Linked DNA regions of Homo sapiens: region 1 is linked to region 2. A link means that fine-mapping ties the variant in region 2 to the expression of a gene that starts in the linked region. Tissue or cell type: whole blood. Region 2 holds a variant in brackets; the other region holds the start of a gene. All regions are shown on one strand. Distances are from middle to middle.

What was found. PIP is the estimated chance that this variant, and not a neighbour inherited with it, causes the effect. A credible set is the group of variants that fine-mapping cannot tell apart.
Region 1: ABCA13 starts here. The variant in region 2 is the best candidate, but not a certain one, in a credible set for the expression of ABCA13 in whole blood (TOPMed, PIP 0.67).

The regions. Positions count from the first base shown.
Region 1 is chr7:48,170,275-48,173,043 of GRCh38, reverse strand. ABCA13 (ATP binding cassette subfamily A member 13) reads right to left here and starts at 1,586. Exons shown (of 62, transcript NM_152701.5): 1 at 1,492-1,586. The coding sequence starts at 1,560.
Region 2 is chr7:48,494,777-48,497,545 of GRCh38, reverse strand. The region is part of intron 48 of ABCA13 (ATP binding cassette subfamily A member 13); the gene reads right to left. Among named protein-coding and RNA genes, the nearest start is that of LINC02838, 210 kb to the left of the region's middle. The variant AT/T (reference allele first, on the strand shown) is at 1,350.

The DNA of each region.
Region 1 (2,769 bases), 320 kb after region 2:
AGGTAGATATGCATAAAGCAGAAAGAGCAGTGCCTGGGAACCAACTTCCACCCATAACACTCTTTCATGGGAAAATAGGCTAATTCCCTAAAACAAACTTACATGTCAATGAAATACACTGTTTATAAATGTAAAACTACCTACACAGACACGAACACACTAACAATCAATGAAGACTGTCTCACTCCTTTATTCCTGAACTTAAAACTTTTTTTTTTTTTTTTTTTTTTTTTTTTTTTTTTTTTTGAGACGGAGTCTCGCTCTGTCGCCCAGGCTGGAGTGCAGTGGCGCGATCTCGGCTCACTGCAAGCTCCGCCTCCCGGGTTCACGCCATTCTCCTGCCTCAGCCTCCCGCGTAGCTGGGACTACAGACGTCCGCCACCACACCCGGCTAATTTTTTTGTGTTTTTTTAGTAGAGACGGGGTTTCACTGTGTTAGCCAGGATGGTCTCGATCTCCTGACCTCGTGATCCGCCCGCCTCGGCCTCCCAAAGTGCTGGGATTACAGGCGTGAGCCACCGCGCCCGGCCAACTTAAAACTTTTGTACAAACTTTCAACTGAAATTATTTTGATCCTAAAGATCACATAAAAAAGAAAACATCTCCTTTAACTTGTATTTTATTTCAAGACAGAGAGATAGAATATTCTGGCTCGGAGGATTCAGCAAAATGTAATTCAATGTCAATTACTGAATCTCTTCAAACCAAAGCATTTGTCAGCAGAAAATTCCCATAGGTTAACTGTAGACCTTAAAATCAGAAACGATGCAGGTAAATTACTGCACATCTACTTCTCCTGAAAATGACATTTATAGGTATTAATGTTTATATAGTGGCATCAGGAATAAAGTTAGTCATAATAACAAGCAATTGATTTCTATTTCACAAAAACGTACACTTACAGGATATTTGCATAAGTATTCACACAAGTTTCATTTGAACAATTCCAATCTCCTTAGGAAAACCTTGCTAATGTAATTTGAATACAGTTCTAAATAGATGTGAATTAACACTAAAGATGGTGACCCTACAGAATAACAGAGTGGATGTGTCATACCCTGCTCTGGTGAGGCACACTGTGCAGTCTTGTGCTTCGGAGTCAGTACCTGTAGCATTCTGCTTATGCATTAAATGCAGCAAATGCTTTGTTCCTTAAACCTGAGAATTCACTGTTCAGTTTTTACAACGAATGCTTAGAACACAAATTATAGTTCAATTCCACCTGCTTTTTTGTTTGTTTGTTTTTAGAATTTTTCTAAATTTGCCCTTTTCTGATAAATTCTTCAGCCTTGATTTCATCCTGGTCATTAAAGTGTTCAGCTACTTTGGCCCTTGGGACGGGTTTTGATTTAAAATAATCCAACCTCCCCAAATTCCCTGCAGCATGAGTGTTTTTACCTGCCAGGAGGCAGAGGCAGGCAGGAAAGAATAGACCCTGATCTTGCTCCAGACCTCACTGGAACCCTATGGAAAACCAAGGCAAGCACTCACCGGGTTCCTGAGTCTGCAGAGCCAATTCTTCCACAGCAGGGCTTTGAACTGGCACCCGGCATGCCCCATGCCTGCTGCTCCCTGCTCTCAGTCAGGAAGCCAGCCTGTAAGGATGGTGCTTATATCTGCTGGGCTCAAGTGAAGGCATGTTGCCTATTAGTCAATTCTAACAAAAGTGAGTGATGCAAGAGAGATTACTGGTGACTGAATAAAACAGGCATCAGATGTCCCCTCTTGTTCGGCATCTGCTGAGAAATCTTTTCACTAGCTGTTCAGTGTTTCAGGAGGGTTGAATTACAGAAAGCTGCCTTCAGGGACTTTCTCGGGCATACACACATACACAGAGAGGGTGCCCTCCCTTTCCGAGAACCCACAGAACTGATCTGTGCGACAAGAAGTAATGCCCACATTTACCATTTACCTCCCTTTTTTTCTGGATATTAATTAGATGGAATTTTCCTTTTTTCTTCTGAAGCATTGGTTATTACACAAATTTGCCAAAATATTTCAATTTTGGTGGTCCCATGGCAGAGAGTTTGAAGGGAAGGAGATGGAAGCAGTGTTGGTGTCTGGGGGAGTTTGGGGAATGGGTGACTCAAGTTCCACTCTGCTACTGCACCTGCACTTCATACTTCTCCTTCACCCATTTCCTCCAAAGGGATCAGGATCTACGTTTCAAATGGTATCGGGTGCAGATGTGGCAGGACTCAGCAAGTGGCCTGTGGATTACCTCTGAGTCCTGTTTGATTCCTGAACACTTGCACTTTCTAAGTGGCATGATGGATTCAGCTTGCCAGCTGGTGGCTCCATCGTCTTGGAAGCCAGGCCCTCTTGAGTTCCTGTTGCCCCCAGTTGTGGTCAGAAGGATTTCAGGCAACCCAGTCTTGTGGTCTTCTATTTCATAAAGCAATTTTCACAAGCTGTGAATGCTTGATAAATGGCTTTTGCAATAGGAAACAGGGAACACAGGCTTCAGCAAAGAAACTGACTCAATTATTTTGTAAACTTATTTGTTTAGAGCATGCCTATTTTATTTTATTTTTTGTTACATGGCTGGCAGCACTAGAGTGAAGGCCATTACTTAGCAGGATGGCGCCCAGCAACCATAAGTGGATTTGCCTGATCCCCATATGATGTTCCCCCTTGACCTGTGACTTCTCAAAGGTCTTTGGGGTTGCCTAAGTATTGCTACTCTGGTTCTCTTTGCAGATAACATCTAGAACACCTTACAAGTAATTGTCATAATTTTTAAAAATCTAGTATAAGAAAAAGCCTCCA
Region 2 (2,769 bases):
TGCCTGCTAGGAAAAGGAATCCAGAGTCACATATTACAGTTTCCAAAATGCCTAGGATACAACTGAAAATAATCCTTCACAACAAGAGCCAGAATATTACCAGTTGAAAAAGGCAATAAAAAATGGTAATGTCAAAATGAACTGAATGTTGAAATTATCTGACAATATGTATCATAAAGATGCTTCAAAAAGTAATTTTGAATTTTCCTTAAATATGAAAAACAAATTAAAATCTCATTAGAAAATATAAATGATTAAAAAATGAATGAAAATTCTAGAACTAAAATATACAATGACAGAAATTAAAACCCACTGGACATGCTCCACAGTTGAGTGCAGCTAAAAAAGAAGAGACTGCATGGACTCGAGATGAAAAAAATAAAACTTATCCAATCTAAATAACATAGAGAAATAAACTTTTTAAAAAATGAGACTCAGGAAAGAGACCTCTGGGAAAACAATACAAGAGCTAATAATCTTATTACCTGATCTTAGAGAAAAGGGAAAGAGAGAGTGGGGCTGAAAAAGTGTTCAAAGACATAACAGCTGAAAACTTCCCAAGTTTGGCAAAAAAAAACCATAAACCTAAAAATCCAAGAGCTAAATAAATCCCAAATAGGATAAAACCAAAGAAAGCCACACCAAGATACATCATAATTAAATTTCTAGAAACTAATAAGTCAACAAAAAAAATTCTTTAAAGCCGTCACAAAGAGAGAAGGAAGAAAATACCAACTAGAATAGTAATGGATTTCTAATTTGAAACCATGGAAGCCAAAAGGAAGTAGCACATTTTTCAAGTGCTGAGCTTTTCTTTAATTGTCAACCATGAATTCTATATTCAGTGAAAATATCTTTCAAGAATCAAGGTGAAATAAAGATCGTATCAGTTGAAAAAAATAAGCAAATTTTTCATTAGCAAACCTACTCTTAAAGAATAGCAAAAAGAAGTTACATAAGCACAAAGGAAATCATAACAGGAAAAGGCTTAGAACTTACAAAAGGAAAGATGAACATCAAGATACGTTAAAAATAGAAGTAAATATAATAGACTATTGTTCATCTCATGAGTTTCCTAAGTCATATTTGGTGACTTAACTAAGAATTAGAACACCATCTGATGTGGTGTGTATAGGAAACACTTAAGACAATAATATTTTAAAGGTAAACAGGGTAAAAGTAAATTGAAGTAAGCTTTCTACACTTCACCCAAGGTAGTAAATAACAATATCAGTAGACTGTGATAAGTCATATATATGTATTATAACACCTAGAAGAACCACTAAGAAAACTAAATGAATGTATATACTTAAAAATACTATAAATAAATCATAATAGAATCAAAAAAA[AT/T]GCTCAAGTAACTCATGGAAAGCAAGAAAAGAGAAACAGAGGAAACATAAAACAAATGATAATGTCAGACTTACACCCAAATATATTAGTAATTACCTTAAATGCAATGGTTCCCAAACACCAATTAAAAGGCAGAGATAGGCAGTGCAGCTTAAAAAATATGACCTAACAATATACACTCTACACAAAACTCACTTTACACAATGAGATAGGTTGGAAATAAAATAACGGGAAAGATATATTATGTAAACATTAATCAAAAGAAAAAGAGAAGGAGTGACTATGTTGAGATCAGATAAAATAGATTTCACAGCAACTACATTTACTAGTGACAAAGAGGAACACTACATATATGCAAAGGATTAATCTACCAGGAAAATATAATCATCCCAAATGATAAAAGGCTCAATCCACCAGAAATATGTGACCATGCCAAATGTGTACACACATTTGACGTGTACCTCAGAGCTTCAAAATACATGAAGAAAAAACTGATGAAACTGAAAAAAGAAACAAAGCCACAATTTGGAGACTTTACTACTCGCCTCTCAGCAAACGAAATGTGTCAGTGATGATCTTCAGTGAAGGTTCAGTAATCTTCAATGATCAGTGAAGATATGGAAGAACAAAACCACACAATCAACCAACAGGATCTAATTGACATATAATGTACATTTCTAACAACAAGAGTAGAATACTTTTTTTTAATCACCCATGGAAGCTTCAAGATAAACAATATCCTGACCATAAAATGAACTTCAACCAATTTAAAATAATTGAAATAATGCAGAGTATGGTCACTGACCGTGATGAACCAAACCAGAAATCAGTAACAGAAAGACCACAGGAAAATCTCAAAAACTTAGAATTTAAACAACATGTTTTGAAATAATCCCTGGGTCAAAGATGAAGTCTCAAGAGAAATTATAAAAAATGTCAGAGGCCAGTCTTATTTTTATTCCTTTGAAACTAATGTGCTTTGACTCATAGCTTTGTAAAAACTTTTTTCTTTATCCTTGAACTTTAGAAAATTCATCAAATTTGTGCATCAATCATTGCTACTGCCATAATACCTAATTCATAAATTTTGATAGAATCATGACAAACTCTTCCAATCTATTGGTACAGAATTATTTTGTTGTTTTGTTTTGTGTTCGATTCATTTTCTTCTTACATCATTCCTTCTTACTTTCTTATTCATCTGCTTTTTTTCTATACCCGATTCCTCTAGCTTTTCCCCTCTGATCAGTTTTACTGTGTCACCTTTTCCCTGTGTGTTCTTAGAGAATACTGCATGTTTGTTCTTTAAGTCAATAATTCTAAGTGAAGGAGAGAGGTTTGTAATCAATCAATAATGTTATTCACTGCATCCAATGAAAATTCATATTTCTATCTTCATCTTAGCTAGCTCCGTTTTTG